Linked DNA regions of Homo sapiens: region 2 is linked to region 1. Evidence: fine-mapped expression QTL. A gene starts in region 1. The other region holds a variant in brackets. All regions are shown on one strand. Distances are from middle to middle.

Region 1 (5,388 bases):
TAGGCTCAGGCAATCTACCCACCTCAGCTTCCTAAAGTGCTGGGATGACAGGCATGAGCTACCACACCCAGCCTACAGTTTAGTTTTAATTATAAACAAAATATTAGAATAAATTGAAAATGGCTGGGCGTGGTGGCTTATGCCTGTCATCCCAGCACTTTGGGAGGCCAAGGCAGATGGATCATTTGAGCCCAGGAGTTTGAGACCAGCCAGGGCAACATAGTGAGACCTCATTGCTACAAAAAAAAAAATTAATTAAAAAATAAAAAATTGTCTGGGTGCGGTGGCTCACGCCTGTAATCCCAGCACTTTGGGAGGCCGAGGCGGGCAGATCACCTGAGGTCGGGAGTTCAAGACCAGCCTCATCAACATGGAGAAACCCTGTCTCTACTAAAAATACAAAGTTAGCCGGGCGTGGTGGCGCATGCCTGTAATCCCAGCTACTCCAGAGGCTGAGGCAGGAGAATCGCTTGAATCCGGGAGGCGGAGGTTGTGGTGAGCCAAGATCACACCATTGCACTCCAGCCTGGGCAACAAGAGCAAAACTCCATCTCAAAAAAATGAATAAATAAATAAATAAATAAAAGTAAACAGTCATAGTAGAGGAGAGACTGAATTATTTTTTAATTCTCTCTATAGAAAATACTATGAAACCTTGGTCCTATTAACAGATAATCAAAGAGTATGTAAGAAAAAAAGGAATTTTAGTGTATGTTAGGCAGTTAGTAATCATGAAAATATTAATACTGATTTTTTGTTTGTGGTATTTTTCAGCTCTTTAAAATTTGTAACTTGTAATTAATAGTTCTAAATAAACATACAATTTTGTATTAGTTTCATATTTACAATTCTGCATTCTTTTTATTAAAGACGGTCCCCATAATGTATAAACTTCAGGCTCACCAAACCCGGAAGTGTCTAGGTACAATATAAACTCAATATGGAGTGAACAACTAGTTTAGAAAATTCTATATCTAGGGTTTTGTTAGTGTCTTTCATAATATGACCTCAGGTAATCAAGTGACTTACTTGGCCAGTGGAAAGGAGTGGAAATAAAGATTAAGAGGTGTCAATAACAGACACCCAGCCGTAGATGGGCCAGAAGAACAAACTCTGCCCCTAGTCTAGTGGTATAGAGGAGACACAGACAGAAACCATTAACAAGCTTTAAGCAAGGGAGCAAGTGTTTAAGACTAGGAGGCAGGCGTGTGGGCAGGGATTGTCAGGCCTCTGAGCCCAAGCCAAGCCATCACATCCCCTGTGACTTGCACATATACATCCAGATGGCCTAAAGTAACTGAAGATCCACAAAAGAAGTAAAAATAGTCTTAAGTGATGACATTCCACCATTGTGATTTGTTTCTTCCCCACCCTAACTGATCAATGTGCTTTGTAATCTCCCCCCGCTTAAGCAGGTACTTTGTAATCTCCCCCACCTTTAAGAAGGTTCTTTGTAATTCTCCCCACCCTTGAGCATGTAGTTTGTGAGATCCACCCCCTGCCCACAAAACATTGCTCCTAACTCCACCGCCTATCCCAAAACCTATAAGAACTAATGATAATCCACCACCCTTTGCTGACTCTCTTTTCGGACTCAGCCCGCCTGCACCCAGTTGAAATAAACAGCCATGTTGCTCACACAAAGCCTGTTTGGTGGTCTCTTCACACAGACGCACATGAAAGGGATCTCATCTATAATTAGAAAGATGGTGCTAGCTTGAACCCAGGTGATGTTTCTTCAGGATTGCCACTGTTTTGTATTGACATTCATCGAGTAGAATGATCTTTGGGTCATTGGGTACTTTGGGGCACCCTAACTATGTAGGAGCCAGAGTTTCACTAGCTTCCCCAGCAATCCTTGCTTAGTCAATTGATTCCTATGTCTGCAGCCAAATGCTATAAAAAACTCTGGGGAAGGTAAACTCCTCCCATCCTCTTGGTTTTTCAATTAATCATTTAGATGGGAAACATAAGCCTACTCAGGTAAAAAGACACGTGAACTTCAGGCCAGGATCACAATCCTGTCCCAAATATATGACTTTCCACCCTCCCTCAACCCTTAATGGGGGTGGGCGTAGGGGAGTGTATTTTTAAAACAAATGATTTTAATTCATTCACTGTTTCCTAGCAACCAGGAAAAAGCATGTGTTCCTGATGTCTGTGAGCACCAGTCTGAGATGCGCGGATGCTTCAGCATGCCTCCAGAAGCAGAGAAAGAACAAAAGCACTGGAACCGGTCTCCGGTTGGTGAGCGATTCTCAAAGGGGAATTTGTTAAGAGCAGGCACTTAATAGAACAGCCCGAGAGACCTGTACCACGATTGCAGGTGTGCAGCAGGGAACCTGCATGGAATGTGCAGATATTCTCCAGGAAATGATATTCCTATAGAATTTGGGGGCTCTGACTTCTAGGGAATTGTTTCTATGAAACAGCTAAAGCCTGAGACAGCTGACATCTTTCCAGTACCTCTTTTGTGTGTGCTTTCAGCCACACACAAAACACACAGCGGTCTTGTTTTCTTTAGAGCTCTATAGACAGAGAAGAGGGATAACTGGCAGAATTCAAATCTAGCTGAATTAGAATCCATGCAAATGGCCTTCTTTAGACCAGGCGTAGCTACTAAATGCATATAAATCACTGACTTCCACAGCTGTAAGGGACCTCTCCAATCATTCAACGCTTGTTTTACAGAGGAAGAAATGAAAAAACATAGGCAAATTAATTTGTTCAAGGTGCACAGCTAGTTGGTGGCCTCACAGGGTCTTCTGACCTACAGTTTAGTGGTTTGGGAGTGGGACATACTCATATTTTAAAGACTGAAACCTTTGCATATTATACCATATTGAATGGTGGTGGTGGGGGCAGGGGATGGGGAGGATGAGGGATGATCTAAGACGAAGCTGTCATAACAACGAAGCAATGCAAATATTATAACTTGTAAATCTGAAACTCAAAGGGCTTTCTCAGAATTACAAGACAAGAATGGATTAAAGCACATGCTAACTGTGCCTTACTCCCTGCCAAGGAATTGAGATAGGCCAAATAGTCTAGCAACAAATGTTTTTCCAAACTATTGAATCAGAAGAATTTTAATGCATGCCAGACTTTATAGAGTTACAGAATGTTAGGGTAAGAAGTGCTCTTGGCAATGTTAACCAGGCCCATCTTTTTCGGATAACACCTGAGGCTGGGAAGCAGAAGACGCACAGCCACATCAATGAGTGTGGCTTTCCTGGGTCCAGTGCTCTCTCTTCTCTAGGCAATAGGGCCACCTCTATGGCTTGCTGCATCCTCTCCCCATTGACTCTGTAGGGAGCAATATTATTGTCTTGATACTTAATCAATTTCCTGTGAAATGCTCTTACTTTCTTCCCCACTTTCATCTTATCCACATCCCGTCCACTCCCCAAAAACTAAAGCAGATGTAGCAGCAGCAAGAATGATCCAAAATGGCTGGGCACGGTGGCTCACGCCTGTAATCCCAGCACTTTGGGAGGCTGAGGCAGGTGGATTACAAGGTCAGGAGATGGAGACCATCCTGGCCAATATGATGACACCACCCGGTCTCTACTAAAAGTACAAAACAATTAGCTGGGCTTGGTGGCGTGCACCTGTAGTCCCAGCTACTTGGGAGGCTGAGGCAGGAGAATCACTTGAACCCAGGAGGCAGAGGTTGCAGTGAACCGAAATTGTGCCACTGCACTCCAGCCTGGTGACAGACCGAGACTCCGTCTCAAAAAAAAAAAAAAAATCCAAAATAATGAAGGTGGCCTAGGGAAGCATTCATTTAGATCAGCGCCATCCTGTTGGCTCTCTGCTTACTGTTGGTAGAGCTGAATCAAGTGAAGCTTAGTGTTTATATGGTACCATTTTCAAAAAACCGTTTCTAAAGTTTGTTTTCCAATCATCTTTAGAGTAGTGATTTAAATATACGTACAATTTTAAAAGTACAAAGGGTAGTATAATGAACATCCATGGACTTAGAATTCCAGAGTCAACAACTATTAACATTTTGTTATATTTGAGTATTAGGGTTCCTCAGAGAAATTGAACTGACAGGATGTGTGTGGATACACACACACACACACACACACACACACACACACACACACACGGTGCAGTATAGGCTTAACCATCTCTTTCAAATATTTTGATTTTACAGAATTGGCTCACATGATTGTGGAGTCTTGGCCAGTCCAAAATCTGATAGAGGAGGCCAGCTGCCAGCAGACTCAGGGAAGAGTTGCAGTTTGAATCCAAAGGCTGCCTACTGGCAGATTCCTTCTTGCATGGGGGAGGTCAGTCTTTTGTTCTATCAAGGCTTTCGACTGATTGGAAAAGGCTCACTCAGATAGAGGGCAATCTGCTTTCAAAGTCCACTGATTTAAATGATAATCTCATTAAAAAAAAAACACCAGAAACATCCGGGATAAAGTTTGAACAACTATTTGATCATAGAGGCCCAACCATAAAATAAATTTAAAAATAAATAAAACATCACAAATAGAGTTGATACCCTATTTATACCTCTCCCTGTGTACCCCATTCAATAGTGATGATTTTCTATAGACTCCTTTTTGGTGACTTCAGACTCCTTTTGACCCCATCACCTGATCTTCAATTTCTGGTTCAATGTGGGGGTGGGAATTGAAGACATATTTCCCATAACCATATTTTCTTTCAAGGATCTCCTGGCAATAGGAGAGTGTAGATGGATTCTATGGAAAACTCCATTATGAGCCACTGAGCCAGGGTGAACTCACTGGGAGTTGAATGCTCACAGAAAAACCCAAACACATTCAGATCTAGATGGATCACATCCATCTAGTTTGGATGGTTCTGCCCGAATAGTCTCATCAGCTATTACACAAACCATTTTGGTTTTACTTGCTAGATTATTGCAAGGAAGAGTAAATTAAGTAAATAAGTGTTGGAAAAATTTGGAAGGAATAAAAGGTGTCAAATAAACACAAAAGTACAGTGCATGAGCCTCCAGGTGGCTTTTTGACCCTGAACCTGCCGAGTAAGAGGCCTGAATGAGGTGCTCCCTCAGATCCCTTCCAGAGCCTAGGACTCCATGACTGGTATTTGGAGTGATAGCATCCCTAACTCATATTCTCTCTGATTTGCTGCTGTAGCCTCTAGACTCAGAGAAGCTGGGTCTAAGTGTAGTGTTAGCTGCAGATACCTGCTCAGCTGGCTAAGCCTTTAACATGGAAAGAAGGCTCATAAAGAAGGAAATGAAAAAGCTCTTGTAAGTATGACTGAGAATAACTTTCATTTATGACACTTGGCATTCGGTGGATTTCATGTCATAGATGGCTTGGGTATTGGCAGTGGGTAAAAATCTAAGAATCTATTTCTGCATGGTAGGAGAAAACCAGAGGA
Region 2 (5,388 bases), 23 kb after region 1:
GCTGGGATTACAGGTATGCACCACCACACCCGGCTAATTTTTGTATTTTCAGTAGAGGTGGGGTTTCACCATGTTGTCCAGGCTGGTCTCAAACTCCTGCCTCAGCCCCCCAAAGTGCTGGGATTACAGGCGTGAGCCACTGTGCCCGGCCGAAGGTATTAGACTTTCTAGAACCATATCTTTGTTTCTGAAGAATTTTTTGAAGAATTTGAAAAATGAGGTCATTTTTTATACGTGTTTGGAAGCAGCAAGTTTTAGAGAGCAAAACAAAACAACAATGAAAAAACAGTAACAACTCCAAAAATCACACACACACACACACACACACACAATCTAGACTTTAAACTTAATCACACACACACACAAAAAGATCTCTGAAACAGGGGTTTATAGACACCCCCCGCAAGCCTCATCAATGGACCCTATGTAAGGAAAACCTACCTCTAAAGATTACTCATTGGTATCTTATTTTTAAATATAATTTTGTTCCATATATATTTTCTTCCACAACCAATGAAGATTTTTTGATTCTTGATGGAAGCATATCTTTTATTTCCTTAGTATTTCTCACATGTATATAAAGTACTTCGCAGGCAGCAGAGATTCAGTAACAATTTTTATTTAGTGAATTGGCAGTAGGTAGTAAGCGAATAGTCCTTAGGTGACGGTTCTCAAATCTCTGTGCCCTGTCTATAGTGATCAAAGGCTCAGTTCTGGGGACCAGACCTTTCTATAGGCTGATTGATGCTTGCGAGCCCAGGAGTGTCGAAAGAACAAATGCCCATGTTTTAGTAGGGCCCCAGGTCCTGAGATGAATCCCTTCCAGAAAAGCCCTTTCTTAATAATCAAGCGACAGAAAACTCGTTTGTGTTTTTTCTTTCACACTTTATTATTTGTGCACTTTAGGCATTTTTTCCAACTCTTTTTTTTTTTTTTTTTTGAGACGGAGTCTTGCTCTGTCGCCCAGGCTGGAGTGCAGTGGCGCAATCTTGGCTCACTGCAAGCTCCGCCTCCCGGGTTCACGCCATTCTCCTGCCTCAGCCTCCCGAGTAGCTGGGACTACAGGCGCCCGCCACCACGCCCGGCTAATTTTTTGTATTTTTAGTAGAGACGGGGTTTCACCGTGGTCTCGATCTCCTGACCTCGCGATCTGCCCGCCTTGGCCTCCCAAAGCGCTGGGATTACAGGCTTGAGCCACCGCGCCCGGCCCAACTCTTGGGTAATGTATCTTTTAAACTAGTTTTAAAAATTTTAATAGTGTACACACTTATAAGTAAAATTTTCAAGCCAGACAAAAAATATAAAATGAAAAGCAAAAGAACTCCCTCTTCTTCACACCCCTGTCCCACTTTTCAGAAATAACCACTGTTAATATTTCTTATGGTATTTAATTATTTGCTACACATATACATATAAACATACATATATGTATGTCTCACTGGTTTGTTAGAATTCTTTCTATATTAAAGGAATAAGTATTTTATTAAATGGATGAAAAACATGCTTTCACAGCTTGGTATTTGAAGAAGATTTTCATTTTAAATATTTGAGCTTACTGTTTTTCCTTTTTGGCTTGCAGATATTATATGTCTTTTAGCTGAAGAACAATTTTTTTAACCTCAAGATAAAACAATGCCTTATTCAGAATTTTTTATTTATTTCCAGCCACCGAATTTCTTCATAGAGTAAGAGAAAAGAGGAAATTATTAAAAAAAAAAAAATCACAGCCAGGCACGATGGCTCATGCCTATAATTCCAGCACTTTGGGAGGCCAAGGAGAGCAGATTACTTGAGGTCAGGCATTCAAGACCAGCCTGAACAACATGGCAAACCCCATCTCTACTAAAAATACAAAAATTAGCTGGGTGTGGTGGTGCACGCCTATAATCCCAGCTACTAGGGAGACTGAGGCATGAGAATTGCTTGAACCCAGGAGGCAGAGGTTGTACTAAGCCGAGATTGCACCAGCGCACTCCAGCCTGGGCAACAGAGCGAGACTCTGTCTCAGAACAAACAAACAAACAAAACCCTCAGTGTTCTGGGAAACAGTTTTTTGTTTGTTTGTTTTTTGTTTTTTTTGAGACAGAGTCTTGCTTTGTTGCCCAGGCTGGAGTGCAGTGGTGTTATCTCGGCTCACTGCAACCTCTGCTTCCCGGGTTTAAG[C/T]GATTCTCCTGTCTCAGTCTCCTGAGTAGCTGGGATTACAGGTGTGCACCACCACACCTGGCTAATTTTTGTATTTTTAGTAAAGATGAGGTTTCACCATGTTGGTCAGCCTGGTCTTGAACTCCTGACCTCGTGATCCACCCACCTCAGCCTCCCAAAGTGCTGGAATTACAGGCATGAGCCACCGCGCCCGGCTAGGAAACAGTTTTAAAGATTTTTTTTTTAAATTGCATTGTCCTAGGAAAGCGTCAGTAGTGGGCACATTACTAGGAAGTAAATTTGGAATGAACACGACCATACTAAAGAGCTAGAATACAGCATACTTCTTGAATCCAGGCTACCCACTTAATAACTTGAGTGAGTTACCTAATCTCTCTGTGCTTTTAGTTTTTCATCTCTTTAAAAAGTCATAATAGTACCTACCTCATAGGGTTGTTATAAGCATTAAATAAGTTATATGTGTAAAGGCTTAGAAAAGTGTCAGGACAGGCCAGGCATGGTGGCTCACGCCTGTAATCCCAGCACTTTGGGAAGCCGAGGCGGGCGGATCACGAGGTCAGGAGATCAAGACCATCCTGGCTAACATGGTGAAACCCCATCTCTACTAAAAAATAGAAAAAATTAGTTGGGCGTGGTGGCGCCTGTAGTCCCAGCTACTTGGAGGCTGAGGCAGGAGAATGGCATGAACCCAGGAGGCGGAGCTTGCAGTGAGCCGAGATCCCGCCACTGCATGCACTCCAGCCTGGGTGACAGAGTGAGACACCGTCTCAAAAAAAAAAAGTGTCAGGACAGTGGCAAGCAATAATATAATCGCTCTCTTCATCACCACTCATGAGAAATTCATGCTATCATGAAAGGAAATGAGACATAGAGAGAGGACAATTTAAATTTAAATCCAAAGCAATACATCAGAAATTCAAAATAATATCCTACAAGCATAATACATAACTGCTAAAAGGCCAAAAACTGATTTGCTTTGGGTAGGATTGGTTAAGAGAAGTATAACTTTTTAATGTAAAAATAATTTCAAACTTAGAGAAAATTTGCAAGAATAATATACAAAGAACCCACGTATTCCTTTTATACAGTCACGAATGGTTAATGTTTTGTTCTGTTAGCTTTATTATATTCTGTCTTTGTCTCTCTGTATATAGATAAAGATATATAATTTTTTTCTGAGCCATTAGAAGTTATGTATATATACTCTACCACTTTACTCTATGTACCTCTGTGTGTATTTCTTAAGAACAAAGTAATTCTCTTAAATAACCATAGAATAGTTATCAACTTCAGAATATCTATTATTGGTACTTTTATTTAATGTACTCTCTATACACCAATTTTGTCAATTGACCCAATAATGTTCTTTTTAAGCATTTTTTTCCTTCTGTATAAGATCCAGTATGGGATCACATATTGCATTTAGTTGGGAAATATAACTCAATTTCCAAATATATCAGAATAATTCCATGAAAATTCCTTTGTAATTACATTAATCTAATCTATCTTTGTCAGTAAGTTAGTATCTGATATTTGACCTTAACTTCCTATAGACTTAAAGTAATGTCTGTGTCCATGTTAAATTGATGTGCTTGATACCAAAATCATCTTTTATTCTGCAGGTCACTTAGAAAATTGGAATTGTACCATGGAACTTCATAATAGATTCTCTGGGAGCAGACGAGAAGCATCATCTTAAAACCACAGCTCTTGCCAGTACATTTTTCTTTACAACTGTTTTTGGTACAACTGCACTGAAGTGTTATTTTTGATGTTGAGCTTTCTTCTTTTAGAAGCATATTGCATGGCTACATTTTCTTAAAAAAAAAAACTGTGACCTTATGCTACTTCATTGTGACTGGAAGACTGCTGGAGAATTCAGAAAGTATATAGTATTTCTGTGTTAGAGCAAGCTGGCTTTGTAGCACATTTTACAAATGTGTGGCATTGAATATTGCACAGTGATGGAGTGGGAGGCAGATTTCCAAAGAGTTAATCCAAAATAAAATTAATCTGTCATTGATTGCCTTTACTGTGTTCTCATATGAAAAGAATGTTTAAATCATTTCAATAAAGCATTAAAAAAATGAATACAGGCTTTCTCTCAGTAGACTATAATGACTACTAGGAGGGAAGATGTTCTGGTCTTTTAGTACCTTTCCAAAATGCTGATTAGGCACATGGCTTAGCCTATCAATGTATGTAATAACAACTTGATCACATGAATGTCAGTACACATAATACATTTCTTAAGGTTTTGGTGTGCCATCTGTCTACAGAACAGTTTTCATCAGCATGTACAAAAACACAGATGGAGATTGTAGACTTTTTCTGAAAATGGTGGTATATTCTCATGTGGGGCTGGGAGACCAATGCAGCGTTTTCCACACTGGGTTTGATTATGGTTCTAAGATTTACCAGTAAGCCTGCAGCTAATTAGGGGGAGGCAAAGGAGGGAATCAGCAACTTGCGGTCCCTGCATGCACTGCTAGGTGTTTAGCTTCATAGGACTTCACCCAGTTTTCTTTTGCCTAGCTCTGCTAGTTATGAGGAAACATTTTTTTCTCGGTAGCTACTGCTGTCTCTCCTTTTACCACCTGCGCGTTTGCCTTACATGCTGCCTGAGGATTTTCACAAATGACATTGTGAATGTGTTGCTAGCTGTGGTCAAATACTCTTTTAGAATCCCTCGGTGGGTCTAAAGCACAAAGGTGTTTGATTTCATCTTCCTACATACATGTGGAATGACAAAAGACAGTCTGGGGTTTGGAGTCTTCCTCCACACTTGCACATCTGAGGAGTACTTCTAAATCAATAAGTTGGCAGCAATGGAGAAGGCTGTTAGGCAGTCACTTGGGTTCAATGAAACAGTGATACTATTGAAAGGAAAAACACAGGCAAATCATCACGCTAATTTTAAAAAATAAAAGCAATGCTAGAAGGAGGGTGGCAGGGGGAGGGGAGTGAAATGTTCCTGTGTATTTTTCTGCTCTTCGAGCCTCTCACAGATTCTCAGGGTTTCTTTTTATTTTTAGCTCAAGAAGTGTTTAATCTCTTGATTAAATATACCTGCTTCCAGTATTTACTGCTTTTCACCAGCACCTCAAAGTCATACATTTAAAGATTGATTTTATTATTTTTTCATCTCATGAAATTGTTATATTTATAATCGAATTTTTTTTTCTGTCTGGCTGAAGATGGCAGATATAATAGAAAATTAAGAAA

Evidence for each region. PIP is the estimated chance that this variant, and not a neighbour inherited with it, causes the effect.
Region 2: its variant is the best candidate, but not a certain one, in a credible set for the expression of C2orf80 in caudate (GTEx, PIP 0.63).

Annotation. Positions count from the first base shown.
Region 1 is chr2:208,186,812-208,192,199 of GRCh38, reverse strand. C2orf80 (chromosome 2 open reading frame 80) reads left to right here and starts at 2,170. Exons shown (of 9, transcript NM_001099334.3): 1 at 2,170-2,247; 2 at 5,139-5,254. The coding sequence starts at 5,214.
Region 2 is chr2:208,164,213-208,169,600 of GRCh38, reverse strand. C2orf80 (chromosome 2 open reading frame 80) reads left to right here. Exons shown (of 9, transcript NM_001099334.3): 9 at 3,786-4,254. The coding sequence ends at 3,794. Among named protein-coding and RNA genes, the nearest start is that of CRYGA, 3.3 kb to the right of the region's middle. The variant C/T (reference allele first, on the strand shown) is at 2,164.